6 linked regions of the Homo sapiens genome follow. The protein of the gene in region 2 purifies or fractionates together with the protein of the main gene of each other region. This does not show direct contact. Each region holds a gene or a part of one and is shown on either strand. Other genes may lie near its edges. The genes, in order: TRIM13, LRRN2, LARGE2, DNAJC18, ATF6 and ATP1A3.

Evidence for each region.
Region 1: the proteins of LRRN2 (region 2) and TRIM13 purify together in Homo sapiens (affinity purification with mass spectrometry; 2 studies listed by BioGRID and IntAct, with this or other methods). This does not show direct contact.
Region 3: the proteins of LRRN2 (region 2) and LARGE2 purify together in Homo sapiens (affinity purification with mass spectrometry; one large-scale study listed by BioGRID and IntAct). This does not show direct contact.
Region 4: the proteins of LRRN2 (region 2) and DNAJC18 purify together in Homo sapiens (affinity purification with mass spectrometry; one large-scale study listed by BioGRID and IntAct). This does not show direct contact.
Region 5: the proteins of LRRN2 (region 2) and ATF6 purify together in Homo sapiens (affinity purification with mass spectrometry; one large-scale study listed by BioGRID and IntAct). This does not show direct contact.
Region 6: the proteins of LRRN2 (region 2) and ATP1A3 purify together in Homo sapiens (affinity purification with mass spectrometry; 2 studies listed by BioGRID and IntAct, with this or other methods). This does not show direct contact.

The regions. Positions count from the first base shown.
Region 1 is NC_000013.11:49,999,100-50,004,035, forward strand, and holds part of TRIM13 (E3 ubiquitin-protein ligase TRIM13), read left to right. Parts: intron 1-1,895; exon of another isoform or gene 1,896-2,006; coding exon of another isoform or gene 2,007-2,009; intron 2,010-4,936. UniProt on the Homo sapiens protein: Endoplasmic reticulum (ER) membrane anchored E3 ligase involved in the retrotranslocation and turnover of membrane and secretory proteins from the ER through a set of processes named ER-associated degradation (ERAD).
Region 2 is NC_000001.11:204,682,488-204,687,978, reverse strand, and holds the start of LRRN2 (leucine-rich repeat neuronal protein 2 precursor), read left to right. Parts: upstream 1-2,240; 5' UTR 2,241-2,659; intron 2,660-4,981; exon of another isoform or gene 4,982-5,109; intron 5,110-5,491.
Region 3 is NC_000011.10:45,924,749-45,930,125, forward strand, and holds the end of LARGE2 (xylosyl- and glucuronyltransferase LARGE2), read left to right. Parts: intron 1-36; coding exon 37-141; intron 142-1,290; coding exon 1,291-1,403; intron 1,404-1,473; coding exon 1,474-1,599; intron 1,600-1,693; coding exon 1,694-1,849; intron 1,850-1,962; coding exon 1,963-2,123; intron 2,124-2,566; coding exon 2,567-2,845; intron 2,846-3,000; coding exon of another isoform or gene 3,001-3,171; coding exon 3,172-3,321; intron 3,322-3,428; coding exon 3,429-3,624; intron 3,625-3,783; coding exon of another isoform or gene 3,784-3,881; coding exon 3,882-4,097; coding exon of another isoform or gene 4,098-4,176; 3' UTR 4,177-4,348; downstream 4,349-5,377. UniProt on the Homo sapiens protein: Bifunctional glycosyltransferase with both alpha-1,3-xylosyltransferase and beta-1,3-glucuronyltransferase activities involved in the maturation of alpha-dystroglycan (DAG1) by glycosylation leading to DAG1 binding to laminin G-like domain-containing extracellular proteins with high affinity and in a phosphorylated-O-mannosyl trisaccharide dependent manner.
Region 4 is NC_000005.10:139,432,364-139,437,299, forward strand, and holds part of DNAJC18 (dnaJ homolog subfamily C member 18), read right to left. Parts: intron 1-4,936.
Region 5 is NC_000001.11:161,772,064-161,776,999, reverse strand, and holds part of ATF6 (cyclic AMP-dependent transcription factor ATF-6 alpha), read right to left. Parts: exon of another isoform or gene 4,385-4,936; intron 1-4,384.
Region 6 is NC_000019.10:41,987,000-41,991,935, forward strand, and holds part of ATP1A3 (sodium/potassium-transporting ATPase subunit alpha-3), read right to left. Parts: intron 1,603-4,936; coding exon of another isoform or gene 1,564-1,602; coding exon 1,477-1,563; intron 1,379-1,476; coding exon 1,319-1,378; intron 1,141-1,318; coding exon 937-1,140; intron 1-936. UniProt on the Homo sapiens protein: This is the catalytic component of the active enzyme, which catalyzes the hydrolysis of ATP coupled with the exchange of sodium and potassium ions across the plasma membrane.

The sequences.
Region 1 (4,936 bases), on a different chromosome or scaffold from region 2:
TATGTGGGCGTCTGGGCCGCTCCCTTTTCCTTGTCACCCTATGTGGGCGTCTTGGCGATCACTAGGTAAAACCACGGGTGCAGGTGTCATGGCGGCCCCAGGTAGAAGCTACATTTGCATAACAAAAAATTAGGGTGGGAGGGCCAGTCTTTAGACGGGCTATGTAAATGATTCACCTGGTCAAACCAGTCCCCTGGGCCCTATGTAAATCACCACCTCCTCAAGCCTCTGTACAAAATCGATTGCGTTTCACCCCAAACCCGGAGACCCTCTCTTGGGTGATATTTCTCAGCGTGAGGAACCTTTCCCTATTAAATTTTCCGCTCCTAAACCCACTCCTTGTGTGTGTCCATGTCCTGAATTCTTTCTTGGCTCGAGACAACCACGGGTGTATCCCCCAGGCAATGGAGCCATTTCATTATGAGGTAAATACTATAAAAATCATTTTTAAATTTTTTTCCAAGAGATGGGATTCTCAACTGTGTTCCCCAGGCTGGTCTTGAACTGGGCTCAAGTGATCCTCCTGCTTCAGCCTTCAGAGTAGCTGGGACTACAAGTGTGTGGCACCATTCCCAGATATAAAAATCCTAATTTTATGAAGGATAAAACTGGTGCTTGAACACAGGTACTCAAAAGCAGGTTCTGTGCTTTCCCCTTCACTAGAGAGCCTGTTAAACCTAGTTTGTAAAAACTGCAAAATTTTAGAAGGGATTTTAGAGAGCTTATGATTAAACCCCTTCATTTTATGAATAAGAATACTGAGTTCTTGAGTCCCTTTCTAGATATTGCTAAGGTCTAAGAATTAGAAAACTCAGGCTGTGATGCCTAGTTTGCTGTGTACAACTGATGAGTCTCCACTTCTTGAGTGCTGGGGGTGTCTTAGTTTTTTTGACTCCTAAAATTAGGTGTTTAGATGATTTCTAAGATGCTTTTAAGCCCAGTATTTCTATTCCTACCCCATAACTTTTATTACCATTTATTGCCTATACATATATATTGGTAAGACACAGATGCAGACTAATGTTAACTGCCTTAAACTTTTATATTTTAAACTCGGGTAGGTATGGTAACAAGTGTGTCTTATTGTTTTTTACTAAGTCCTATAAAACTATGGTTTTATTTAAGGTTAGGAACTGCATAGAGAGGTGGACCACTCTAATACATCATTGGTTAGAGTTCATAAAGTGATATAAACCCTTTCTAGAGAGAAACCTAGTCATCTTTTCAACAGCCTTAAAAATGTCCTTACTGTTTGACCCAGAAGTACATTTAAAGGAATTGTCTAAGGAAGTAATTAGAGCTGTGGAGCAAGACTTTTCTCTATAAGGTGTTTACCTAAATGTTACAATACCAAAAAAACACAACAACCCACAAACAAAACAACACAGCAACAAGAACAAACCCATAAATGAGCAATAAGAAAGCATATCCACAACATGGACTGTCATGTTTTTCTAGAACATATCATGATGGGGGAAAGGCATGTAATAAAATAAGGGGATAGGATACAAAATTGTATTATGCTACCAGTTCTGTTAAAATGTGTGCACATGCACGGACACATGGGATTGGAATAAAGACACCAAAATAATAGTAGTGGTGATTTCTTGCTGATGTGATTATGGGTGGCTTTTTCTCTCTATTTTCTGAATTTTCTATAATAAAAACTAATTTTATAATTTAAGAAGACACAAAAGCTAGTTGCATGGATAACTTCGGTTTCAGTATGGTGTCAATATTTTATGGTTTTAATTGTGGTAAGAACATTTAACATGAGACCTATCCTCTACACAGATTTCTAAGTGTACAGTACAGTGGTGTTAACTATAGACATGAGCAGATCTCTGAAACTTACTTTTATGTGTCTTTTATAAACTATTTATCATACCTTCTAGAATAACAGCACCTGGCCGGGTGCAGTGGCTCAGGCCTGTAATCGCAGCACTTTGGGAGGCTGAGGTGGGCGGATCACCTGAGGTCAGGAGCTCGAGACCAGCCTGGCCAAAATGGTAAAACCCTGTCTCTACTAAAAATACAAAAAATTAGCTGGGCATGGTGGCAAGTGCCTGTAATACCAGCTACTTGGGAGGCTAAGGCAGGAGAATCACTTGAACCCAGGAGGCGGAGGTTCCAGTGAGCCAAGATCACACCATTGCACTCCAGCCTGGGTGACAAGAGCAAAACTCTGTCCCAAAAAAAAAAAAAAAAAAGGCAGGAAAGAGTCCAGGCTAAACTATGGTATGGAGAAGAGAATGAAGGAAAAGGAAAAAGTTTTTCTTAGTGCTCTGAACTAGCGAGGTAATGAGTGACCTGGTTTATATTTCTGAGAATTTCACCTTAGTCTGACAACCCTTTGTGAACTTTCTGAGTAAGTGAACTTACCAAGCTAGTGAACATTCTGTACTAGCTCTATTTTGCCTTGTCAGGATCTCTGCTAGAAATATCTTGGAAATTTTAACTACTGTTTATTCTAGGATAATGCCAGAAAAGGTTGGTTACTTACTGTCTTATATGGACACATAGGTAACTTTTATATTGTTTGCAAGAGCCACATAACAATTATTTTAGATACTATATGTAATATATTAATTTTCATTTTTAGAGGTATTGAAATCTGATATTTCTTACTTTGTCCTGTTTTGATCATATATATGCCAGAGGTGCTATGTGTAATACATTAATTTTCATTTTTAGAGATTATATCTGAAATCTGATCTCTGTATCTTACTTTGTCCTGTTTTGATCATATAAGTCACCGGGACAGTCTCTAAAAGAATGAAGAGTAATAACACATTGATACAGAGTATTTAAAATAAAAACTTTGTAAATACTTTTCATATACCTTTTAAAATAGCTATACAAATGAGGAGAGAAACTAGTATGTATAAGTGGTTTGTCAGAGGTTACAGACTGAGAGCCAGACAAGTATGTCAGTCTCCTCACAGGTCTGGATTCAGAGACTTCCAGTAATACATTAAAAAAAAAAATTTATGAAAGATGAAACCATAGGCTGGGCATGATGGCTTATGCTTGTAATCCCAGCACTTTGGGAGGCCAAGGCAGGAAGATACTTGTGGCCAGGAGTTTGAGTCCAGCCTGGCCAACATGGCGAAACCCCGTCTCTATTAAAAACATAAAAATGAGCCTGACGTGGTGGCAGGCACCTGTAATCTCAGCTACTTGGGAGGATGAGGCAGGAGAATTGCTTGAACCCAGGAAGAGGAGGCTGCAGTGAGACGAGATCGCACCATTGCACTCCAGCCTGGGTGACAGAGCAAGACTGTCTCAAAAAAACAAAAACAAAAACAAACCATACTACAGCAGATTAAACTTCTTATGAGGCTTATATTTAGCTAATGTTTTCAAAGTTTTACTTTCTAAACTCAATATGGTTTTTTAATAATTGGCTCTTTAGTTTTTCCACCCATTTTATTGTGAAAATGTTCAAACAGAGAAAACTCAAGAAGAATATTAAAGTATTCTTACATCCTCTACCTAGATTTTAATAGTTGTTAATTAGACCCTTACTTAGTTTCAAGAAAACATTTATTAATGGATCTCTCTTTTTTTTTTTTCTTTTTGAGATGGAGTCTCACTCTGTCATCTAGGCTGGAGTGCAGTGGTGCGATCTTGACTCACTGCAACCTCTGCCGCCTGGGTTCAAGTGATTTTCCTGCCTCAGCCTCCCGAGTAGCTGGGATTACAGGTGTCTGCCACTGCTCCCGGCTAATTTTTGTATTTTTAGTAGAGACAGGGTTTCACCATCTTGGCCAGGCTGATCTTGAACTCCTGACCTCATGATCCACCTGGCTCAGCCTTCCAAAGTGCTGGGATTACATGCATGAGCCAATGCACCTGGCCTAATGGATCTCATACTACAGTATAGTAAGGTGCAGTGGCTCATGCCTGTAGTCCCAGCTACTCTGGAGGCTGAGATGGGAGAATATAGTACACTATTTGAAAATAAGATTAACTAGTGTGCTGAGAGGAAATGATTTTTTTTAATGAGCCATTTTATTATAGGAATTATTTCAAAGTAACATTTGTGGCTGTCTCAGTTCAGTAAAGCTTAGCATAATTTAATGTCTATGAAGTGAGTTTCAATGTTTGCTGTCTAGCCACCTGATAGATACTTAGGTACTGTTTTGAAATTCTTGCCTTCAAAGATGCCTCAAAACAGGATGGAAATTTGAGTTAAATCCTTAAGATAAAAGCGTGATATATTTATTGGCTTTTCTTTTTGTTCCCTAATGGGAAATGAAAAAAAACAAAAAACATGGGTAATATTTTGAACAACTTTATATTGCTAACAGCCAGTGGAATTTAAAACCTTAGTAGGAAAGTTTCTTTTACTAATAGGTTTTATAAGGAGAAAATGAACTTTTGTTTCAGAGTGAATGAATGAGTACTTTCTGCAGTATAATCATTTTGGGTTGATCTCTTAAAAGAATTCTAGAAGGAAGAAGTCCAATACATATATATAAACTCTATTATGACACGTTTACTTTGTAAGTATTGGCTTTTCCATTTTTATTATTTTAGTGGTTGTGTTATGGTTCTCATTTATAGAAGCTGTTGTTGCCAGATACTAATTGAGGTAGGATTCATAAAGCACTTTTTGTAATCCTTCTTCTTTGTGGATAGCTTGACAATTTGTTCAAAAAAATAAACTCATAGTGGTGGTATGCAACTTTGTTAAAAATAAAACTGTAAATCAAAAAGTGAATTTCATTGTATGTAAATTTAAAAGTATGTTAGAAAACATCAATATGGCAGGAGAACAAGTTTGACTTTTTTCCGCAACTAGTGTCTACTACCACCTTTCTGGATACTTTAAAAAGTTGTCAGCTTTTAAAATTGTTGGTATAAAACATTTGGGAAGTTTTTAATTGGTATTTGTGCTTCAAAATTTAAGACTTTTCTAAGTATTCAGAAA
Region 2 (5,491 bases):
CCCTTATGCCTCATCTAGTACATCTCACAGGCTTTGCCACTCAGGATCAACCACTTAGTGAACGTTACTTGCATTTATCCCATTTATTATTTCAATAATCAGTTATTGGACATCTACTATAAAGGACTGGTCTTATCTTATTAAGGTGTAAGACAGTCATAGGCTCCAGAAGCTTACCCTCTGGTTAGGAGATAAGACACTTGAGTATGCATAGTTATTGGGAAGCTGGGGTGCTGACATGAGTGCTCTCTCCGGTCGTGCAGTTGGTAAAGGACTCCTAAAATGTCCTCCTTTTCACCATCATCCTGTCTACATTGACATTGGCCCTTAGACTGGAAAGGTGGCTCCAGTGACTCGACAAGGGACTCAAATGCTCAGGCTAAAAGCTTGGAGTCAAGTTTTGACCCCTTTCAATCAGTCAGTCTTACAGTTCTGCCAAGTCTTCTTTACAAAGGCCCATGCATTTACTCTATTCTCACTGCTCCCCTCCTCCTAGATTCCTGCAACAGCTACCTCAATAGTCTCCCATCCTCCTGCCTCTTTCATCCCAAATCACCTGAGGATGGGTCCACAGATAAACTGCTGAGCCTGGCAATTCGGGCCCTTCATCAGCTGCTCCCACCCTGTATACTCAATGTGGCATTGTCGCACTGTGAAAATGAGGTCTCACATTCTGCCTACAGATTTTGGGCTACTGCCTTAAACGATCTGGGCCTCCATCCCCCGGTCTGTTAAAAGGGGATATTAGTCAACTCAGAGTCTAAGATGACAGAGATGAGAAAAGGCTGGCATCTAATAGTAGCTCTATAATTTTCCTCCCTTGCCCCCTACCCTCCAGACAACCCATTCTACTCTGCTTGTCTCCACTTTCCTGCCTTTGCTGGTCCCCATATTCTCTTCCAGTTCAAATCCTATCCCTCCAACTAGGCTCAGTTGGAGACTCAGCTCCTCCGTTAAACCTTTTGTGAATAATGCTAGTCCATTAAGGTGGTTTCTTTTTGTATTTCTATGGCACTTCCATCGTCTTGAAATATTAAAATTGGTTTCATATAGTTCCAACCTGTCACTCTGAGCTCCTTGAGGCCATTATGCTCCGTAGCAGGGGTGGAGAGTGGGAACATGGGGGTGGTTTAGTGGGAACTTAATATGTGCTCATTCAATATATGAAGGTGAGAATCCCCTCTGTGCATACAGAACTCAGACCTTCAAGCCAACTTCACAAAAGCCACCAGGCATGGCAGTCACCACTGGCTGTACCCTTGGAAAAGACAGGGCCAGAAGCTCAAGCACTGGATGACGGCAGGCAGCCCAGGGAAGCCACTCCTCACAGGACTCCACACCTTGGCCTCCACCTCATCCATTCCCCTGTTGTTGGTTCTGCAGGCTCTGGTCCAGACCCATCAGTAGGGTGTGGCCTGCCATGGAGCCGAGTTTGTGATGTCTGTTCTGAGTGGTCCAGGCTGAAGTCCCCACCAAGGCATGGGTGTTGGGCATTGGGCCTTTGCCCTCCTCTAGTGGCAGTCACCCAGCTTTTCTAAGCCACCAGGCAGCAGCCTAGCACCCACCTTTGGCACCTTCTTACTTTCCTCCCCCAGTCTTCATGATGTCCAGCTGGCAGAGTGGGGAACCCTGAAGCCAAACCCCTAACTGGGCCTGCCAGTTCCTGACTGAAATTGACCTCCTTCATTGAGAGCCAGGACGGAATCTTCCAGAATGCTAGAGCTGCACGGCTCAGGATGCAATGCTGGAAAAGCATGACAACTAAAGGGGTCTTCCACTCCATTCTTTAGGGTGAGAGGTGCCTGGGCCCAGTGACAAATTCTCACCCACCCCACTACATTCCTTAGTCCACTGTTAACTTCGGGAGGGTAGCACCATGCAAAGCAAAAATGTGATCTTAGGTGCATGCTGTGACTGTGAGCTGCACCTGTCCTCACAAAGCTGCTGAATTCCCCATTCGTCTCCTGGCCTTTGCAAGAGGGTCCGAGGCAGTATGAGAGAAGCCAACCCTTCTCTTCCCGGACCCAAGGGCTGTGCCCCTTCTCTCAGCCAAGCCTTGTGTCTCTAGGCACAAGGACAGCTCAAGCGTTAGCGTCTGGCCCCACCCAACTCCTTCCTCCCGGGTGTGTGTGCGTTAGGTAGAGGGGGCCTCTGGCCACTCAGGAGTTAAAATGGCAGCGGGACTGGAGGGGGTTGGCGTGGCATGCAGACTGGGAGGAGGCGACCGGAGTGGGCTGGGGAGGTTGGGAGAGCGGCGGAGAAGCGAGTGAGGAGGGCGAGCGCGAAGCCGGGAAGAGGGGCGCGCGTGGAGGGGGTGCCGGGCGCCGCGAGGGCCTGCTCCGGGCACCTGCGAACGCGCGGCGCTCTCAAGGAGCGCCTGGCTCTCGCCCGCCAGCCTCCGGCCGCGACGCGCCCAGGGCGCGGAGAGGGGGTGGGGACGGATTGGGATTCTGCCATCGCCCTCACCGGCTGGGCCCTGGAGCCGCTCCCAGGATAACTCCACGTTGGGGAGGGCGCCCGCCGAGCCTCCCCGGCCTGTGCAGACGGCGCGCGCGGCGGGAGGGCGCGGACCAGCGTCCCCAGCCCGGCCCCGGGCGGAAGGCGAGCGGAGCGCGGCCGCGCGGGCAGCAGACGGCAGACGGTGCCCGGCGCCCACGGGGTGAGTGTGCAGCTTCGGGGCTGACCTGGGCAGCGCCGCCGCCGCCGGGGAATCGTGGACACCGAGGTCGCTGGCGTGGCCGAGGCGTACGCGGCGGGAGCGGCCGGAGCAGCCGCCTCAGGGCTCCTGGCTCCTGCCCCGGCACCGCAGCTCCGCCTGACCCGGGTGGGGGCCAGAGGAGGGCCGGCCGCTGCCTTCCGCCGAGACGCCTGCGGGGGAGCCGGAGACTTGGGAGAGGGAGGCGGCCGAGGGGCAGAGGGACGGAGGGCTGGAGAATGCCCAGAAGCGGCCAGGGAGAGGGCGCCTGGGCCTTCGCCTGGAGAGGCCAGAACCTCCCCCAAACTGTTGCTGGGTAGAGTGGGGCCCTGGAGATGTGGAGGAGCCGAGAGGTGGCAGTGAGGTTAGGGAGGGCGTGACACGGGCGGACTGGCAGGCTGGAAGCGCTCCAGAGCCTGGGGACTTTCTCCTCCTTGGAGCTCGCGAGTCTGTGCGGAGGGACAAGGTGGCCTTGGGTCTGTCTGAAGTATCTGGAACCAGGAGCTAGGCTCCTCCCGGGCCGGCTGGCTGGGGTCCGACCGCAGCCTGGGATGGGACCTTTGGGGTGGGGGATGGGCCGGCCTGGGGCTCAGCCTGGGGACTCGGTCAGGGGGAAGCGGAAACGGAAGGGTGGCTCTGAGCCCACCGCAGGACCCAGGAGACAGGATGGGCTGGCCAGCCACAGGTGGGCCGTCTGTCCTGCTGGCAAAGGGTGGCGCAGGCTCTGGCTGCCCAGCCGGCGAGGAGCCGCGGGGTGAGGGAACTGAGCTCCATCTGGGGCCGAGCGGAGAAGCTAAAGAGGTGCAGGAGACCCGGAACCTGGGGAGGGGCCCCGGGGGTAGCACTGTGCTCCCTACCCTTCCTCCCCCACCCAAACGAACAGGAAGGAAAATGTCAGCTGGGCTTTGTGCTCTGTTCCTCAGGCTGCCGCAGCTCCCATCTGTTGGAGCCAACGCAGCTTCTAACTGGGCGACTGGCAGGGTTGGAGGGGGTGGGCTGGGCACAGCGCTCAGTTGCCAGAGATGGACTGACAGGCCCTCTGCTTGAGAACTCCAGGACCTAGGGTGGTGAGGAGAACAGCCTCCCTAGGTCAGGGCAGTAGAGGTGACTCCCTGCCAGTTTGGTCACTGTCATAGGGGAAGATGTAGGTCTCCCCATGCACCCAGGCCGATGGCAGGCTCCGTGCCCCCCTTTCCCGCCAGTCTAGGATGGGCTCTGGCCCAGCGTTTTGTCCCTGAATAAGAAGGCCAGGAGCTCCTCCCATTGCCCACTGCTTCTTAAAGATCCCTTCAAAAAAGAGCACTGGGCATGGAGGGTAGAGGTGGGCTCTGCACTGGGCACTGGAGCCCCCTTGCCTTTGGGCCCTGTGGCTACCAGAAAAAGCCACATGTGGGTGGCCTGACCCACTTTCCTGGCCAGGTGCTGTTGTGGCGAAACGATGGAAACAGAAGGGCAGAGCTAGGGATCTGAGCCTCCTAGGCCTTCTTCCTTCCCCTGTGCTGACTCAGGCTTCTCCTTCTTGCGGAGGGCTCTCTCTGGTCCTGGGATGGGTCCTCATTATTTGCAAAGCATGGAACTAAAGGCCTCAGTGCCTGGGAGATTGAGGTCTGCCCAGGGTCTGGCACCTAGGAACACCCCCAAATCCACACCCTCTCCCTAATGCAGTCTCCTCCCGGGGAAACACCGAGTGGCAGTAAGATCTCAGAGATCTGCTAATTCCATCCAGGCTAGTACAGCAGGTTCCCTCTCTAATTCAACACAGTTCTTCCTCACTTCCCATCCTATTTTCCCTGTGCCTCCCCTCTTCCTCCTCCCCCTCATCCTCCTCTCCTTCCTTCACTCTTCACTTTCCTCCTCTAACACTCTTCACTTCCCTTTTCCCCCTCACACTGCTCTTCCTCTTCTCTCACCCTCCTCATTCTTCCCCAGATATCTCCCTTTCTTCCCAGGCTCTGTCTCCACTTTGCCCTGCTTCTCCTGTAAACTGCAGCTTAAACCGTAAGCCAGGCGTGCACGCACTCCTGCTCATCCTGCCAGTGGGAGCACATGCACTGTTGACTTTGCTGCATCCCTTTTGCAGAGGAGCCTGGGCTGGTGGGCCTGGCAGCTGCATTTGCCTGGCCCTGGTGTCCCTTGAACCCTGTCATTTACTCACCTCCCCCTTCTACTCCCCACACCCTTATGTCGTTTATTTGAAAGGAAAAGGAAACTCCATGGCTTTTAAAAAAATGTATTCATTCAACAACTGTTTCTTGAGTGCCTACTGTGTGCCTCTCATGATTTTAGAAGCTGAAGATACAGCGGTAAACAAACCTCCATGTCTCAAGCTGACCACACTTGTATCTGGACTTGCCAGCTGATTAGCTCTGTTCCCACCAGGCTCGTTCAAAGACCCACAGCTTGAGGGGGCAGAGGTGAGGAACATGAACAATGCTAGTGAATTATCACACTGAGTGACCTCTAACATGCCAGGTACCGCTTAAGTCATCCTGTCCTTAGGATACTTTTCTGACCTGAAAGGATGGACCAGGTCACATCTCACCATTTATCTGGCAGCCCAGGGCAAGTAGAAGGCTGGTGCTTCAGACAGAGAAGGGGGAAGGAATCAAATTTATTATTGAATACCTATTATGCACCAGTCTATGTGAGGAACATTACAAAAGTTATTCTGTTCAGTCGTGCTGACAACCTTCTAATGTCTGCATTACCATCCCCTGTTTCCTAGCCAAGGAAATTGAGGCCTGGAGAGGAGAAACCACTTGCTCCGGGTCATATAGATCTCCATTTTGAAATCAC
Region 3 (5,377 bases), on a different chromosome or scaffold from region 2:
AGCTTCAGACAGCTCCCTTATGCCCTCCCCTCCCAGACACGCAGGCGATCGGTCTTGTGGAGAACCAGAGTGACTGGTACCTGGGCAACCTCTGGAAGAACCACAGGCCCTGGCCTGCCTTGGGCCGGGGATTTAACACAGGTGGGGACAGTGGTGAGGGGAGGCAGGCGGGGTGGTCTGCTGGTCCTTGGGCCCCTGGGGCTGGGTGGGGCAAAGAATGCTAGGAAGTCCCCCAGGAAGAACATTGCTGTGAAAAGAACCCTGGATGAAGAGACAGACAGCAGTTCCAACAGTCCTGTGTGTGCTGGATGACTTTGGCCAGCTCTCGTGCTCCCTCTGAGCCTCAGTTTTCTCATCCATTAAATGGGGGATAATTTTAACAGCCCTGGGATCACCAAGTGTGAGAAGGCCATGGATGTGCTCTGTAAGCTGGACAGCGCCTCCTCTTCACCCCCGAGGATTGACTATTGACAAAAGTAGTCTACGAGCAAGCTGGGTGCAATGGCTCAGGCTTGTAATTCCAGCACTTTGGGAGGCTAAGGTGGGAGAATCGCTTGAGCCCAGGAGTTCGAGAACAGCCTTGGCAACATAGTGAGACCCTTGTCTCTACAAACATTAAAAAATTGACCAGTCGCAGTGGCTCACACCTGTAATCCCAGCACTTTGGGAGGCTGAGGCAGGCAGATTACTTGAGGTCAGGAGTTCGAGACCAACCTGGCCAACATGGTAAAACCCCTTCTACACTAAAAATACAAAAATTAGCCAGGGGTGGTATCACGTACCTGTAATCCCAGCTACTTGGGAGGCTGAGGAGGGAGAATCACTTGAACCCAGGAAGCAGAGGTTGCAGTGAGCCGAGTTCACACCACTGTACTCCAGCCTTGGCAATAGAGTGAGACTCTATCTCATACATAAATAAGTAAATAAATAAAAAATAAGTAAATAAATAAAAAGGATAGGTGTGGTGGCATGCCTGCAGTCCCAGCTACTCGGTGGGGGTTGTGGTGGGGTGCTGAGGTGGGAGGTTTGCTTGAGCCTGGGAAGTCGAGGCTGCAGTGAGTCATGATTGTGCCACTGCACCACTCCAGCCTGGGTGACAAAGCAAGACCCTGTCTCTAAAAAACAAAACAAAACAAAACAAACAACAACAACAAAAAACAAGTAGTCCATGATCATGTCTGAACAGTCAGAAAATACCAATGTCAAAAAACAAAGGACACCTTCATGACCCCCATGTCCCCCAGGAGCTGGTCGTCCCAGGTGGGCATGACAGCATCTCTTCATTGGCAGGTGTGATCCTGCTGCGGCTGGACCGGCTCCGGCAGGCTGGCTGGGAGCAGATGTGGAGGCTGACAGCCAGGCGGGAGCTCCTTAGCCTGCCTGCCACCTCACTGGCTGACCAGGTCTGAGGAAGCCTTGCCGGGTGGGGTGTGGCAGGCTGGGGGCTGGGATGTGATGGGTGTCTCTGCTCAGGACATCTTCAACGCTGTGATCAAGGAGCACCCGGGGCTAGTGCAGCGTCTGCCTTGTGTCTGGAATGTGCAGCTGTCAGATCACACACTGGCCGAGCGCTGCTACTCTGAGGCGTCTGACCTCAAGGTGAGTGGGACAAGAGGCTGTGTGGTGGTGGGGGGCCATGGATGGAGACTTCTGCTCCCTGCTCCCATGGCCCCAACACCCTCCTGGGTCCCAGGTGATCCACTGGAACTCACCAAAGAAGCTTCGGGTGAAGAACAAGCATGTGGAATTCTTCCGCAATTTCTACCTGACCTTCCTGGAGTACGATGGGAACCTGCTGCGGAGAGAGCTCTTTGTGTGCCCCAGCCAGCCCCCACCTGGTGCTGAGCAGGTGAGAAGGAGTCACCTTCCCCTGCCCCTCTCTGCTTTGGTGGGACCCAGCCTTGTCTGGGGGATGTGTTGTTCTGCCCTATCCCCGGTCCTTGTCACCCCTTGCCCCCTCAGTTGCAGCAGGCCCTGGCACAACTGGACGAGGAAGACCCCTGCTTTGAGTTCCGGCAGCAGCAGCTCACTGTGCACCGTGTGCATGTCACTTTCCTGCCCCATGAACCGCCACCCCCCCGGCCTCACGATGTCACCCTTGTGGCCCAGCTGTCCATGGACCGGTGAGGGTGCAGAGGGCAGCCCAGGGGGTATGGCATGGGCTGGGGTTGGACACTTCTGAGAGGAGGTTCCATCTGGCAGCCTGATGCTGTGGTAGTGAGCTACCTGTCCCTCAGGGAGTTCCAGAAGTTGGAGACATTGGATATGGTGGAAAGAGCTTGGGCTCTGGAGTCATTCAGATGCCCGGAGCTGCCCCTCGGTCGCTGTGGGACCATGAGCAAGTCTTCATATCTCTGGCCCCTAGTTTTCTCTCTCAAATGAGAAAGTACCCACCTGGTGGGGGTAGTTGTGAAGATTCAATCAGACTGGCTCTAAAAGTATTTGAAGGGTGCTCAGTAAGTCACTTGAGGAGGTGGCAGCAGCAGCTAACTGGGGAGGTTTGCCAGGCCTCCCTGAGCTCCTGTGCAAGAGGGGCAGAGCTGTGCTGACCTCCCTCTCCCCATAGGCTGCAGATGTTGGAAGCCCTGTGCAGGCACTGGCCTGGCCCCATGAGCCTGGCCTTGTACCTGACAGACGCAGAAGCTCAGCAGTTCCTGCATTTCGTCGAGGCCTCACCAGTGCTTGCTGCCCGGCAGGACGTGGCCTACCATGTGGTGTACCGTGAGGGGCCCCTATACCCCGTCAACCAGCTTCGCAACGTGGCCTTGGCCCAGGCCCTCACGCCTTACGTCTTCCTCAGTGACATTGACTTCCTGCCTGCCTATTCTCTCTACGACTACCTCAGGTGGGCCTGCAGGCAGAGAGGGGAACAATATATGGGGTGGACGTGGACGGGGCATGCGTGGGACCCCAGGCTTCCATGTCCCTGCTCCTTTCTGGGCCTCAGTGGCCTCTGTCAATTGGGGTTTGTATTAGGCTGTTTCTCTGGGCTGTCAACAGGGAGGCCAGGGCCGGCTTCAACAGCAGCTCCACCTGTGGTTGTGCCCACCCGTCGCATCAGGCAAGATGGCCCATGGTGGTCTAGTCCTGTGGCTAATGCCCTGATGAGTGTCACTGGCCCAGTCCTAGATGCCCCGCTCTTCTCCCCTGCTCATGGGTGCTCCTCCTCAGGGCCTCCATTGAGCAGCTGGGGCTGGGCAGCCGGCGCAAGGCAGCACTGGTGGTGCCGGCATTCGAGACCCTGCGCTACCGCTTCAGCTTCCCCCATTCCAAGGTGGAGCTGTTGGCCTTGCTGGATGCGGGCACTCTCTACACCTTCAGGTAGGAGAGGCTACTTCTCTGCCCACTCCACTCACTTGCCCACACTGGCCCCCACTACCCACGAGCTCCTAGCCTCAGCCTGGCTCCCACCCGACCCTGCTGCACAGGTACCACGAGTGGCCCCGAGGCCACGCACCCACAGACTATGCCCGCTGGCGGGAGGCTCAGGCCCCGTACCGTGTGCAATGGGCGGCCAACTATGAACCCTACGTGGTGGTGCCACGAGACTGTCCCCGCTATGATCCTCGCTTTGTGGGCTTCGGCTGGAACAAAGTGGCCCACATTGTGGAGCTGGATGCCCAGGTGAGGAGGGCACCTTGCTGCCTCCACCTTTGACTCGAGCACCTCCAGGTCCAGGGAACTCACGACACCTGCATGGGGGACCACACCACTAGGCAACACTGTTAGAAATGTCCCCCTTCTGTGGAATTAAAATAATCTGCCCTTTGGCCCTTGCTTTAGCTCTCAGGGGCTACAGGGTAAGCCTGTTCTCTGGAGCTGCACCTTCCCCGCAGGCCAGGCAAGCCAGGCAGCCACTGCTCCTCTGCCCCACCCTGCAGGAATATGAGCTCCTGGTGCTGCCCGAGGCCTTCACCATCCATCTGCCCCACGCTCCAAGCCTGGACATCTCCCGCTTCCGCTCCAGCCCCACCTATCGTGACTGCCTCCAGGCCCTCAAGGACGAATTCCACCAGGACTTGTCCCGCCACCATGGGGCTGCTGCCCTCAAATACCTCCCAGCCCTGCAGCAGCCCCAGAGCCCTGCCCGAGGCTGAGGCTGGGCCGGCGCTGCCCCTCATCTTAGCATTGGGCAGACACCAGGGCAACCTGCCCTCCGCCATCCCTGCTATTTAAATTATTTAAGGTCTCTGGGAAGGGCTGGGGCAGAGCATCTGTGGGGTGGGGTCTTCCCCTTGCTGCTATTGTATGGCTGGGGACTGGTCTCTCTCTGCCCCAGCCAGTTTGGGGCTGGTTCCCCCATCTTGAATTGTTTATCCCTTTTTCATAATTAAAGTTTTAAAACATCTTTTTTGTGTTCCTGGTTTGGGGGAGCAAGGGCACTCTGGGGCTAGGGCGTCAGTGCACAAGGGAGGTGCTACATCCAGCTGGGGTCACAGGAGGGCCTGGGCCCTTAAGGGCAAGCACCCCCCCGCCCCCCACCCCCAGACAGCCAGTCAGGGAGGGCAGAGGCTGGGACTGGAATGTGTCCTGCCCACCCTCCCCTGCCCCAAACCCAACACCATGAGGCTGAGAGGCTTTATTTGGCTTTATTTAGTAAAATGTTAAAATAAATAAATACAAATTGATCAGCTGCTCTGTATCCCCCCCCACCCCCTCAAAACAAAAACCAAACAAACAAAAACAAAAACTTTGAAGCACAAAACTCCAAATACAAGTCTACCAAGACTGAAATCACAAAGGGCATGGACAAGAGACAGGGTTGGGGTCTGGCTGGCTCTTCTCTGCTAGGAGCTGGCTGACCTCTGGCCTGCCCGTCCCATCCCGCCTGACTGCAGCTCACCCTGGGCTGAGGACCCACGGACACCGGAGAGAGGTGAGGGTCCAAAGGCTGCTGGGGAAGGGGTAGGGGGGTGGGGTCCTCAGGGAGGAAGGGCCTTGTGGGAGGGGGCGCCAAGTGGAACTGGAGAGCCCTGCTTCCGTTTAGAGGAGGTATTTTTCAGAGTTCCTACCCCGGCTTTCTGGAGGGCAGCCCCAGCTTCCTGCCCCTCACTTTAGCAAGGGGCCAGAAGACTGCCCAGGGCTGCCCACTCCTGTCTTGGAGAGGAGCTGACTCAGAGGACAGTCTAAGTCAGGGTGAGGATGGGAGTCCTGCTTCCTGCCAGGGGTGCCCGGCAGAGGGACAGGGGCGAGGTTCACACAGAGCAAAGTTGCCTCCACTCAACAGAAGCCACGGGATCTGGAGAACCCAGGCCCTGGAAAATGCACCTGGGCCACCATCCATCTCATTACCCTAAGAGCCTTTTGCCCCTGGGTAAAAAGTCTCCTAAATTCAGCCCTTTAGATAAATAAGAAGGACCACGCCCTATAAGAGAAT
Region 4 (4,936 bases), on a different chromosome or scaffold from region 2:
CATGTTGGCCAGGATGGTCTTGAACTCCTGACCTTGTGATCCACCTGCCTTGGCCTCCCAAAGTGCTGGGATTACAGGCGTGAGCCACCGCGCCTGGCCACAGAACTTTATTTTTTTTTAGAGACAGGGTAGGGTCCCTGTCACCCAGGCTGGAGTGCAGTGGCACGATCATAGCTCACTGCAGCCTCCAACTCCTGGGCTCAAGTAATTCTCCTGCCTCAGCCTCCCAAGTAGCTGAGACTACAGGCATGCACCATAACCCTGAGTTAATCCAAAAGAACTTTTTAAAGGCAGTCCCTTAATGGCAAAGTACTTCCTGACTTCACGAAGAAAATATCAATGGAGCCAGTCCAGAAAAAGGGCTCTCAGTGCCCAGGCCTTCTTGCTGTACAACCAAAAGGCTGGCAGCTGGTGTTCATCTTTTCCATTCAAGGCTCAGGGGTTAGCAACTTTATATATAATGGCAGCCCCCATCATAAACTGAACTGCATTTGCACAAAATAGCAGAGTTAGCCTATCCCTTCCTGCCTTATATCCTGATGCTCACTTCTCATCCTTACTAGTACAATGTCCTTTGTGACATTTCTTTTCCAGAATAGGGCACTTTTGTCTGCACTAAAAAGTTGATGAGGTAGGGCTGGCCGCAGGGTTCACACCTGTAATCCCAGCACTTTGAGAGACTGAGGTGAGTGGAAGCCTTGAGCTCAGGCATGCGATAAGTAATAATCACATCATGGACTGTATGCCTTTCTTATAGCAGTCCTGCACCCATATAAAAGCTTCATTTTCAATATGAGATGAAAAGGTATTTTGCAAAAAGTGCAATGTTTTCTTACCTGCTGGCATTAAGTGCAGGTGGATCACAAGGCCAGGAGTTTAAGACCAGCCTGGCTAACATGGTGAAACCCCATCTCTACTAAAAATACAAAAATTAGCTGGGCATGATGGTGGGCGCCTGTAATCCCAGCTACTTGGGAGGCTGAGGCAGGACAATCGCTTGAACCTGGGAGGTGGAGGTTGCAGTGAGCCAAGATCGTGCCACTGCACTCCGGCTTGGGCGACAAGAGCAAAACTCCATCTCAAAAAAAAAAAAAAACAAAACTGGAGAACTGCAAGAGATCACTTTTTACTGCTATACATAATTTACTCAAGAGACAAACTGCTCACAAAGAGATGATTAGCATCATGTGGCATTTTAAGCAGATACTCCCAATACTTGAGGCTCAGCAAAATAACAGGAGCTAACTACAAAATTATTACAGTAGTACAGTACTACTGTTAATTTTATGCAGGTGTGATTAATACTGCACCTGTATGTTTACATTTTTCTCAAATGCAAATGGTACCATGTAGTCTCAAGTGTTTGTGAGCATATGTTTTGATAGATTTTCACTTTTTATAATAGATTTGTGTATATTTTATGATAGTAAATGATAAAATAGACTAGAATCTAGATATATTTTATGCATTCATATAATTTTCTTAATTTTTTGGTATGTCCATGCTCCATGGTTTGTGAGATGGTGATGATGATGATTATTATTTGAGACAGAGTTTCGCTCTTGTTGCCCAGGCTGGAGTGCAATGGCACAATCACAGCTCACTGCAACCTCTGCCTTCTGGGTTCAAACAATTCTCCCGCCTCAGCCTCCCAAGTAGCTGGGATTACAGGTGTGCGCCACCACGCCTGACTAGTTTTGTATTTTTAGTAGAGACGGAGTTTTGCCGTGTTGCCCAGGCTGGTCTCAAACTTCTGAGCCCAAGTATTCTTCCTGCCTTGGCCTCCTAAAGTGCTGAGATTACAGATGTGAGCCACTTTTTCAAATTGTTGCAAATCTAAAAAATTTTTCCAATGTATTTATCTTTTAAAATTGACATATAAAAATCCATGGTTCAAACTGATGCCACTCAAACCTGTGTTGTTCAAAGGCCAACTGTATCTCTTTTTTAAAACTATTTATTTATTTATTTGTATATAGAGACAGGGTCTTGCTTTGTCACCCAGGCTGGATTGCAGTAGGGTGATCATAGCTCACCTCAGCCTCGAACTCCTGGGCTCAAGGGATCCACCTACCTCAGCCTTCTGAGTAGCTGGGATTTTGGGTGCATGCCACCACACCTGGCTAAATTTTTATTTTTAGTAGAGACAGGGCCTCGCTATGTCGCTCAGGCTCGTCTTGAACTCCTAGCTTCAAGAGATCCTCCTATCTCAGCCTCCCAAAGTTTTGAATTACAGGCATGAGCCACCACACCCAGCCTCAACTATATTTTCTTAATTTCATTTTTTTATTGTTCATTGCTAGTATATAGAAAAATGATAATTTTTGTATATTGATCTTATATCCTGTAACTTTGTCCAACTTGTTTATTAGTTCTAACAGTATTTGTGTGTGTGTGTGTGTGTGTATTCATTAGGATTTTCCATTTACAAGATCATGTCATCTGTGGATGTAGTTTTACTCTTCTTTCCAATTTGGATGGCTTTTATTTCTTTTTCTTGCTTAAATGCCCTGGCTTGACCCTCTAGTACAATGTTGAACAGAGTGGCAAGAGTGAACAGACATACTTGTCTTGTTCCTGATCTTGGTGGGAAAACACCTAGTTGTTCACCTTTAAGTATGATGTTAACTGTGGATTTCTGTAGATGGACTTTATCAGGTCGAGGAAGTTCCCTTCTATTCCTAGTTAAGTGTTTTTATTATGAAAGAGTGTTGGGGCTGGGCGCAGTGGCTCACACCTGTAATCCCAGCACTTTGGGAGGCCGAGGCGGGCAGATCACAAGGTCACGAGACCATCCTGGCCAACATGGTGAAACCCCGTCTCTACTAAAAATACAAAAATTAGCTAGGCATGGTGGTGCGCGTCTGTAGTCACAGCTACTCAGGAAGCTGAGGCCAGAGAATCGCTTGAACCTGGGAGGCAGGGGTTGCAGTGAGCCGAGATCGTGGCATTGCACTCCAGCCTGGGTGACAGAGCAAGAATCCGTCTCAAAAAAAAAAGAGTGTTGGATTTTGTTAAATGCTTTTTCTGTACCTATTGAAATGATCGTGTGATTTTTGTCCTTTATTCTATTAACATGGTATGTTACATTGATTGACTTGTGTGTGTTAAACAATCCTGCAATACTGGGATAAATCCCACTTGGTGAAAATATATAATACTTTTTACATTGCTGTATTTGTTTTACTAGTATTTTATTGAATATTTTAAAATCTATATCCATAAGGGATATTGGTTGATAATTTAGACTTCTTATGATATTTTTGTCTGGTTTTGGTTACAGAGTTAATACTGGTCTCAAAGAATGAAGCCAGCTGGGCCTGGACTTTTCTTCATTGGAAGTTTTTTTTTTTTTTTTTTTTTTTTTTTCAGACAAGGTCTCCCTCTGTCACCCAGACTAGAGTGCAGTGGTGCTCACTGTAGCCTCGCCCTTCCTGGCTCCATCAATCCTCCTACCTCAGCCTCCTGAGCAGCTGGAACTGCAGGTGTGCACCACCATGCTCGGCTAATTTTTGTGGGGTCTTTTTGTTTGTTTTTTATTGTACTAATGAAGTTTCGCCATGTTGGCCAGGCTGGTCTTGAACTCCTGGGCTCAAGTGATCCTCCCACCTCAGCCTCCCAAAGTAATGGGATTACAGGCATGAGTCACCATGTCCAGCTAGAATTTTTTTGATTGTTAATTAAATCACCTTATTTGTTGTAGGTCTACTTGGGTTTTCCTTTTTTTTTTCTTTTTCTTTTTTGGAAATAAGGTCTCTGTCACCGAAGCTGCAATGCAGTGGCACTACCATAGCTTACTGTAACCTCAGATTCCTAGGCTCAAGTGATTCTCCTGCTTCAGTCTCCAAAGTAGCTGGGACCACAGGCATGTGCCACCATGCCCAAGTATTTTTTTTTTCTTTTTTTAGAGATAATGTATTGCTGTGTTGCCCAGGCTGGTCTCAAACTCCTGGTCTCAAGCAATCCTCCTGCCTCAGCACCCCCAAAGCTCTGGGATTACAGGTGTGACCCACCATGCCTGGCCTCCATTTTTCTTGGGTCAGTTTCAGTAATTTGTGTCTTTCTAGGCATTTGCTGATTTTATCTAGGTTATCTAATTTGTTGGCACACAATTGTTCATAGTATTTGGATTGGTAGGGATATCCCTCTTTCTTTTTTTTTTTTTTTTTTTTTTTTGAGAGACAGGGTCTTGCTCTGCTGTGCGATTATGACTCACTGTAGCTTCAACCTACTGGGTTCAAGCAATCCTCCTGCCTCAGCCTCTCAAGTAGCTGGGACTACAGGTTGGTGCCATCATACCAAGCTAATTTTTGTATATATATATTTTTTGGAAGAGAGGGGGTTTCACTGTATTGTCCAGGCTGTCTAGTTCCTTAAGGTAGATTAGGTTACTGATTTGGAGTCTTTTTTAAAAAAATAAGCATTTAGAGCTATAAATTTCCTTCTAAGCACTGTTTTAGCTGCATCCTATACATTTTAGTACGTCGTGTTTTCATTTTCACTCATCTCAAAGCATTTTCTAGCTTTCCTAGTGATTTATTCTGTGACTTGCTTGCTTATTAGGAGCTTGTAGTTTAATTTCCACATATTTGTGAATTTCTCAAATTTCCCTTTGTTTTTGATTTCAGAGAACATACACTGTATGATTTCAATCTTTTTAAATTTATTGAGGCTTGTTTTATGACCTAAGATATGGTCTATCCTGGAGAATATTCTATGTATCCTTAAGAAGAAAATCGTTCTGTTGTTGTTGAAAGAATGTCCTGTAGATGTGTGTTGTGTCTAGTCGGTTTCTGCTGCCTCTCTTAAAGTAGAAGCAGGGTAGTCAGTTCATGTTATACCCTAATATTCCACTTCTATTCAGTCTTCCCTCTGAGGTCAAGAAGCTAGTATGCCTCAATTATCATCATCATCATCATTATCATCAGTCAATACT
Region 5 (4,936 bases), about 43 Mb from region 2:
GAATATCACACTTACCCAGTTTTCCTCCCACCTCAGTGGTTGACCTACCTTGCTGGTTCTTCCTCATCTCCCTAACACAAATTTGTCCCTGGGCTCAGCATAAACGTTTCTATCTATCTTACTTCCTTGGTAATCTCAGCTGAGCTCACGGCTTTAAATAAAATCTATATACCAAGGATTTCCAAATATACATCTCCAACCCACACTTCAAGATGCATGTGCAGTGAGTATGACATCTCCTCTTAGATGTTTAAAAGGCATGTCAAACCTAACATATCCAAAATGAGCTCCTCATCAACCCCACCAAACCTCCTACTGCTTTGTCCTCATCTCAGTTAATGACAATTGGATTTTCCCAGTTGCTCAGGCCAAAAACCTTGGGATCATTATTACTTAATTATTTACTTCTCTTCCTCACTCTCCATAATCAATCTACCAGAAAATTCTGTCAGCTCTGTTCTCAAAATATATATCTGTAATGTGGCTTCCTACCTTTCCTCCCATTCTTCCTTCCCTTCCCAACCTTCCTTTTCTTCCCTACCCCTCCCAACACAGAGATGTCAGCTTCCAAAGAAGCAGGGCAACAAAGGTGATGGGGTTTTGTGCACAGTCATCTCCAGCAATATGCCTCATATCCAAGGAAATAGGATGGTGTGGGAGAGACTATTGCCCAGCAAAGATGCCAGCATGCCCCAGCCCAGTGGGAGGGGGAATGGAGTAGCAGATGGAAAACGCAGGCTGAGTGGTTAGGAGAGTGGTCATACTGAACAAATATGTTAGGTGACTGAGCAAATGGTTGAATATATCTAAAATAATTAGAATGCTCTGGTTTCTCTTCAGAACGAATGAATCTTTTGCCTTTTACTAAAATAATTGGAGTCAGATTTCTCACAGTCTGAGAAAGGATTTAAGAGCATGGAAAGAGTCGGGAGACTAAAAGAATCCTAAGATGTTGGATTAGAACTAGAAGTATTAGTAAATAAACTCATTTAAAATATAACACATACAGATAGCTGTGGAAGTATATATATATGTACACACATATGCAGATGTTTGTATTATGCATATATACATATATACACATGCACATATATATATATATACACACATGTATATATATTTCCTAGTTCTGTCTGCTAAGAGGTCCTAGAAGCAATGACATCCCAGTAGCAATGAAAATACTGGGTGACCAGATCTTGGATACTAAATACCATCTTCCACCAAACAGAAGTCCACTAAGGGGTTCCTTGGAGAAATAACCAATTCCAGGGCTTGCAGCAGGGAAAGTGCAAAATAAGCCTGGAAATCTTGCTGTGCCAGAAATTCTCAGCAAATGACAGGAATATGTCAAAAAGAACAAAGGCCCCAATATGAATGAATTCTCAGTGGTCAAATCTGGGAAAATCTGAGCATCAGAATAAAATGAGAGTAGCGGTTTACCAACCACCAAATAAAAAAGGAATCAATGAGTTCATCACGGAACAAAGGAAGGAAGGAAGGTAGGTAGGTAGGTTGGTTCTTATAGTGCAATGTCAATCAACAATGATAGAATGATAGACAGAATGATAGAGTTAGATAGTTACCATTTGGCAACCATTAGAGTGGTAACTGATATAGATTGGGGTTATTAATGAGGCTAGGGCTCGTGGTTAGAGGTTTAATAAGAAAAGGATATTGGTGTTATGTCAGATTATCTCCCCCAAAATAGCAATAAAATACAAAATGGGAAGCAGTGGCTTTACAGTGGTGAAACCTAGAAGATACCAACTTGACCAAGTGATCATGTGACTATATCACAGGATGATATGATGGCATAGGAACATCGCATAGTATTTACACTATAATGTATACCCTCATTTTATTCTGATGCCAAATTTTCCCAGATTTGACCACGGGGAGTTCATTCATATTGGGGCCTTTGTTCTTTTTAACATGTTCATTTGCTGAGAATTTCTGGCCCAAGATTTTCCAGGCTTATTTTGCACTTTCCCTGCACTTTCCCAGCCCTGGAATTGGTCATTTTTCCAAGGAACCCCTTAGTGGTTTAGGATCATCTTGTCGAATAAAAGACTTCTACTCTTTAAGACTGTCAAGGACATTAGAGACAGGAAAAGACTAAAGAACTGTTCCAGATTAAAGGACACTGATGAGACATGATAAGTAAAAGCAATGAGTGTTTGCAAGTAAAATCCTAGACTAGAAAAGCAAATCATTATTGAAACAGATGGCAAACTTTGAATGGTGTCTTTGAATTGGATGACACTGTTGTATCAATGTTTATCTCCTGACTGGAAGAAATATAGGGTAGTAATAGAGGAAAGTGGCCTTCTTTTGGGAGGCAGGAGGATAGAGAGTATACACTACAGTATTTAAAGGTGATGGGTCAACACATCTCTCTCTCTTGAAAGGGAGAAAGAGAGAAATTGAGTAAATGCAGTAAAATTTAACAACTGAGGAGTCTGTGTAAAAGGCATGCAAGAGTTCTTTGCACTGTTCTTAAAACTTTTCTATAGATTTCAAACTATTTCAAAATTTTAAAATGTATGTATATATATGTGTGTATGTGTGTGTGTGTGTGTGTGTGTGTGTGTGTACATATCCATAATCCAACTACTTCTCATTACTCCACTGCTACTATTGTAACTCATGGGGATTGCTATAACAGCCTCCAAAACGTCTCCCTGCTTCTGCCCTTGCCCCTCTTTCAGTTTATTTCCAACAGAGCTGCTGAAGTGAGCCTATAAAAACAAAGGATGTTATTGGGAATCAGGATTCTCATAGCGGCAGAAGAGAAATACAAGCATATGGTGCAAGAAGGTGAAAAAGAACCCTGTGATGTTAGCTTTGAAGTATAAAGCATATTAAAATGAATTGATGCTTTTTAAAAATAAACATTTCCTCATTCTTAGGAAATACATGGTGAAGTGTTTAGGAGTTTCATATTATCTGCAGCCCACTTTCAGATGTGAAAAAGGAGGAAAGTGTGGGTAATATTAAGATATAAAGTGAATGTGGCACGATGTTAACAGTTGGTAAATCTAGATAAGGAAAACGCACGTTTATCAGTGTACTGATCTTTTGACTTTTCTGTGGTTAAAAAAATAACTGAAGGTGGGTTGATAAATATACTCGTATATTTATAGAACATTCCAAAAGAATCCATAAGAAACTGTTAGCATCAGTTACCCCAAAGTATCCTAAAACCTATTGCCTATTTCTATATCCTTTGCACCAGTCCCACACTATTAGATTTCCCTCAACAGTAGTAAATAATGGTAGTTACTATTTTTAGTGTACTCAACAAACTTTCCCACCTCACCTCCACCTTGCCCATTTATTTATTCATTTACTCCTTATAAGTTTAATAAGATCAGACACAGTCACTGGGTTTAGCAATGTGGAAATCAGTAGTGCCCTTAAAAACAGCAGTTTCAGGCCAGGCATGATGGCTCACGCCTGTAATCCCAGCACTTTGGAAGGCCGAGGCGGGTGGATCACATGAGGTCGGGAGTTTGAGACCAGCCTGGCCAGCATGGTGAAACCCCATCTCTACTAAAAATACAAAAATTAGTGGCTGACGCCTGTAATCTCAGCACTTTGGGAGGCCAAGGTGGGCAGGCGGATCATGAGGTCAGGAGATCAAGACCATCCCGGCTAACACGGTGAAACCCCGTCTCTACTAAAAATACAAAAAAAAATTTAGCCAGGTGTGGTAGCAGGTGCCTGTAGTCCCAGCTACTCGGAAGGCTGAGGCAGAAGAATGGCGTGAACCTGGGAGGTGGAGCTTGCAGTGAGCCGAGTGAGCCACTGCACTCCAGCCTGGGTAACAGAGAGAGACTCCGTCTCAAAAAAAAAAAAATACAAAAAGTAGCCGGGCATGGTGGCAGGCGCCTGTAATCTCAGCTACTCAGGAAGCTGAGGCGGGAATCGCTTGAATCCAGGAGGTGGAGGTTACAGTGAGCCAAGATCGTGCCATTGCACTCTAGCCTGGGCAACAGAGCAAGACTCTGTCTCAAAAAAAAAAAAAAAAAAAAAACAGGAGTTTCAGTGGAGTGGTGGCACCTGACTGGACTGGGTTCAAGAGACAAGGAGAAATAAAAAACTAGAGTCAGTGAACGTGGACATTTTTTAAAAGGAATTCTGCTGTAACATACAGTAGAGAAATGCAGTAACAGCAAGAGGTGAAGTAACATCTGAAGAGAGTTTTGAGTTTGTTGGTTTTGTTTTTTTTTTTTTTAACTCTAGCTAGAGTACTATCTAGATATAGAAACAGTACTTCTAGGAGAAACAACAACATGTTCATTTACTGACAGAGATGATCTAGTAGAGAGGGGAAATGCTGATGCAGGAAACAGGAGGAAGAATAGCTTGAGCAATATTCTTGAACAAAACAGGAAGAATCTAAAGCACATATGGAAGGACTGGCTCTAGCTAGGAGCAAGAAGCCACTCATTCTCACCAACAAAAGAGAAAGCAAACATGTTGATAGGTGGGTAAATGAGGTAGTGGGAGACTGTAGAAGTTCTCTTCTGATTCAAAGGATGGGAGAGATGTTGGAGGTTTGAAGATAGAAGAAACTTTATAAAGCAATCATCAGAATGGGACAGTGAGAGGACCAGGGAAATATGATTGGTCTGGCAACACTTAAATTGAGACCAGTCAGGACAGTTGAAGTGTTTTCTTCAGCTGATTCAGCTATACTAGGACAGGCATGAAGTGGGCAAAACTGAATTTAACTAATAGGTTTATCCAAGAGAAACCTACCAGAAAAGAGACAGACATGAATATGAAAGGTGAAAGGAAGGAAATAGTGACAATGACTGTCCATGGTATTTAAACTGGGTAAGAGGGACGTGATGAACTGAAGAGAATGAGAGACACTGGAAACATGGCAAAATCTCAGAAGGACTGAACAACTATTGAAACTGGAATACTA
Region 6 (4,936 bases), on a different chromosome or scaffold from region 2:
TCCCAAGGTGCTGGGATGACAGGCGTGAGCCACCATGCCCGACTTGTCCATCTGTTTTGTGTGTGTGTCTGTCCTCCTGCACATGTTGAGTCTGGGATGCGGCTGTCTGTCCATGTGTCTGTCTGACTGGCTGCATGCCTGACTTTACATTCTACAAGGCAGCTTCTTTGGTTCTCTGTGTGTGGATCTCTGTCTCTGTGTCTCCAGCTCTGCCTCTCTGTGAGAGCTTATGTCTAAGACTGTTTAGATTTGAACATCTGAGGACACTCTCTGTGCCTGACTCTCATGTCTCTCTGTCACCAGGTTATGCCTGCATTGCTGTGTGTGTGTGTGCGTGTCAGTGTGTGTGTGAGTTTCTCTGTCAGTGTATATCTGAGTCTGTGTCTGTGTTTCTGAATTAGGTGGCCATGTTTGAAACCACATCCTGGTGTGGCATCTGCGTTGACCCTCCGTGCACATGCGTGTGTGTGCACACACGCCTACCCAGGTGAGCAGCTCTGTGTGGCTGGTGTGTGGTCTGTGTTATGCGCATGGGATCTGAGGCTGCATCTCGAATGTGTCCCTGTGTTATGGGGATGGGCCCTGATGTATCAGCAGCGGGGTGTGCCTGGGTCTCTATGTGACACTCACTCTGGGTATCTGTCAAGCCATGACCACCTGCTGGTGTCTGTTCTCAAGGCCGCTGAGGTCACACAGCCTTGGGACAGAGCCCCGGCTCACACATCCTGCTGTGGGGCCTTGGACAAGTAGCCTGGCTTTTCTGAGCCTCAGTTTGCCTTGTATTTGATCTGGTTCTCTTGCTGGGTGATTGTGAGTTAGATGGGAAAAAGGGGGAGAGTGGGCTGTGAAAAGCTTAGAGGGATGGGAAGAAGTTGGGGTGCGGTGTCCGTAAATAAATGTGCAGAGCCTTGCACAGGGCAGGGTCCAGGCACTCACGTTGTCACCAGAGGGGTCGTCCTCGGTGCCCGCCTGGATACCGTAGGCCAGGAAGCAGAGGATAGCCCCGATCCACAGCAGGATGGAGAAGCCCCCGAAGAGCTGCCGGCAAAACTTGACCCACTCTGGGGTGGTAGGCGGTGGCGTGAGTGCGTTAGGCCCATCCCGGGCCAGGATCTCCTGGGCTTTGCTGTGGGTCAAACCCTGAGGGACAGAGGACTCACACAGAACCCTCCCTGGGCAACCCTGGCACCCCAGGCCTTCACCAGACCCCCAGAACTTAAGACACCAGCCACAGCCCCTCCTCCCTCAGACCCAGGGGTCCTAGCCCCCAGCTCCTCCTCCCTAGTTCCCAGGGTCCCAGCCCACAGCCTGGCCACACCTGCACACAGTCTGTGTTGTATTTCCGGCAGACCTCTTCCACTGACATCTTGTGCTCTGTCTGAGGAACAGGAGTTTGGGGGAGACGGTGAGTGCCTAGGCCAGCCAAGAACTGGCGAGGTTCTCTGGGAGGGTGTGCGGGCAGAGGGCGAGGCTTACCATAGCCACCTCCTTCTTGAGGTCATCCAGGTCCCGGCGCTCCTTGCCCTTGTTCTTCTTGGGTGAGTCCTTGTCATCTTTCTTGTCCTGCGAGGTGGCGATACGATAGCTGTCAGAGCCACCAGACTGCGGGCGAGAAGGGGTTCCAGGAGGACACCGGCCCTCCATGCCCCAGCTATCCTCCTGGCCGGTGCCCCTGCATCTCTGGGTGGGGGGTCTCTGTCTGCCTCTCGGGGTCTCCCTGTGTCTCCCGGAGCCTCTGGGTGACTTCACCTCCCTTCTGCCTCTGGTGACTCTCAGGCCTCGTGAGTCTCATCTGCTGCAATCAGCTTCCCTGTCTCTGGTTCTGTGTGTCTCTGAGTCTCTGTCCCCGAAGGTCCCTGTCTGGCTTCTGCCTGTGTTTCAGTCTCTCTCTGTTTCTGTGCCCATCTTTGCGGGGCTCTCCCCTTTTGTGTTCTGTGTCTATGTGACTTTGTTTTCGTTTTTTGAAACAATGTCTCACTCTGATGCCCAGGCTGGAGTGCAGCAATCACAGCTCACTGCAGCCTCGACTTCTGAGGCTCAGGTGATCCTCCCGCCTCCGCCTCCTGTGTAGCTGGGACTACAGGTGTGTGCCACCACGCCCGGCTAATTTTTAATTTTTTTCTAGAAATGGGGTCTCACTACACTGCCCAGGCTGGTCTCTAACTCCTGGACTCAAGCGATCCTCCTGCTTTAGCCTCCCAAACTGTTGGGATTATAGGAATAAGCCACCGTGCCCCACCTCTATGTGACATTTTAACTCTGCTTCTGTCTCTTCTTCCCTCTCCCTGGCCCTGTCCAACCTTCCTACATATCTGTCTTTTTTTTTTTTTTTTTTTTGAGACGGAGTCTCGCTTAGTCGCCTAGGCTGGAGTGCAGTGGCATGATCTCAGCTCACTGCAAGCTCCGCCTCCCAGGTTCACGCCATTCTCCTGCCTCAGCCTCCCGAGTAGCTGGGACTACAGGCGCCCGCCACTACGCCCGGCTCATTTTTTTGTATTTTTAGTAGAGACAGGGTTTCACTGTGTTAGCCAGGATGGTCGCAATCTCCTGACCTCGTGATCCGCCCGTCTCGGCCTCCCAAAGTGCTGGGATTACAGGCGTGAGCCACCGTGCCCGGCCTCGTATCTGTCTTTTCTATGTCTCCACGTGTATCTCCATCTCTTTCTCCTCTGTCTGTCTCCCTTGATGTGTATCTCCAGGTCTGTTTTTGGCTCTTGGTCTTATTGCTTTGTTTCATCATCTCTCTGTCTCCTGTCTCTTTATCTCTCCATCTCTGTATCTCTGTCTTTGCAAGGCTGTTTCTCTCTCTTGATAGCTCTCTCTCTCTCTCTATCGCTCTGATCTCTTTATGTTGTCTCTGTCATTCTCTATCCTGATCCCAGTCTCTGGGTCTCTCTGCATGTGTCTTTCTATGATTTTGTCTCTCTCTGATCTCTGGTTCTTTGTCTCTCTGCCTTGCATGATGTCTGTCTCCATCTCTTGGCTGTGTCTCCCCAGGTCTGGCTGAGTTTCTGTCTCTCTGGGTTCTTATTTCCCTCTGAGTTGGCGTCTCAAGGATCAGTACTTTCTGTCTCTGTCTTTTTCCGTCTTTCGGTCTGTCTCTCTCTGTCATTGTGTCTCTATCTTCATCTCTCAAGCTGTCTCCTCTGGGATGCTCACATCTCTCCCTACCTGTCTCTTTTCCTGTTTCAACCTCTCTCTGTCTCTCTCTCTGTCTCTCTAATATCTCTCTCTGGGATCTGCCTATCTCTGTCTCTCTCCCACTCTCTCTCTCTGGGATCTCCTCTCTATCTCTGAATCTCTCTTTCTCTCTCACTATCACTAAGATCTCCTCTCTTTCTCTTTCTCTCTCTCTCTCTCCCTCTCTCTGTCTCTCTCAAATCTTCCGTCCCCCTCCTTCCCCATATATCTCTCATTCTCTTTCTCTCTCTCCCTCTCTCTGTCTCTCTCAAATCTTCCGTCCCCCTCCTTCCCCATATATCTCTCATTCTCTTTCTCTCTCTCCCTCTCTCTGTCTCTCTCAAATCTTCCGTCCCCCTCCTTCCCCATATATCTCTCATTCTCTTTCTCTCTCTTACTACCTCATCCTGGAATTTTCCTCTCTGTCTCTCTTTCTCCCACTGTCTCTCTCTGGGCTCTCCTCAATCTCTCTCTCTCTTTCTCTCTCTCTCTGTCCATATATATATATATATATATCTGTCTCTTTTTGTAGGATCTTCCTCTCTCTTTCGCTGTCTGTCTCTGGGATCTTCCTCTCTCTCTCTGTCTCTTTCTCTCACTTTCTCTCTGGGATCTTATTCTCTATTTCTGTCTCTCTGAGATCTCCTCTCTCTGTCTCTGGAATCTGCCTCTCTATCTCTGTCTATGTCTCTCTGTCTCTGTCTCTCTCACTGTCTCCCTCTGGTACCTTCCTCTATCTCTGTCTCTGCCTCTCTCTGGGATCTTCCATGTGTTGGGCCCATGGAGCGTCCTTAACAGAGGCTGGGCATGGCCAGGTTCCTGGAGGACAGAGCAGGAGAGTTAGAGGCAGAAGCCCTAGTCCTGGCTTGAACTGCGCATGGTGTGAGTCCCTGAAGTTCCAGTTTGGGAGCCTGGGCGGATGGGGAGGGCAGTGTCCGAGGCTGGTGGGAGGGGTGGGGCGAGGCTGGGTGCTGCAGGGGCCGCTGACAGGTCCCGCAGGCCCAGGGCCAAGCTGGGATCGGAGGCTCAGCGCGGCTCAGCGCTAATCTCCTCGTGACCTTGTAGAGGGCCTGAGCTGCCTGCTGTCTGCCCCCAGACCCAGAGGCTGAGTCGGAGGGTGGGGGTGTGCAGGGAGGGGCAGCAGCCTGGAGATCTGGGAGCCTCAAGAAGGGGTGCAGGGGGTGGGAGGGAGGCTTGGCCCCACGCCAGCCCTGCAGCAGCACTGCGTCTCAGATGCGGAGGCACAGAGGCTTGGGGGACGGGGAGACCATCTTTCCTACTGCCCTACAGTGCCGGGGTGGTCTCAGCTTTGCCCGATGGGGTAGACCCAGGATGGAGAGACATGGAGAGATGGAGAGATGTGGAGCTACAAAGGCCTGGGGTCAAGTCCTGTGCAGGAGGCCAGGAGAGGGGTGAGATGGGGGTCAGGAGAGAGAGAGGGAGAAAATCAGCTGCCCACCCAGAAACCTTAGTTGAAGGCTGGGAGCTGATGCTCGGGGCCCCATAAATGCTAAGGGCTGGGCCGGACTCTCAGATACTGAGAGAGGCTGGGGTCCTGGATCCCTGGGTCTGAGGGAGGAGGGGCAGGGGTCTGGACCCCTGGGTCTGAGGGAGGAAGGACTGGGAGCCTGGAATCCTGGGTCTGAGGGAGGAGGGGCCAGGGCCTGGACTCCTGGGTCTGAGGGAGGAGGGGCTGGGGCTGGACCCTTGGGTCTGAGGGAGGAGGGGCTGGGCCTGGACCCCTGGGTCTGAGGGA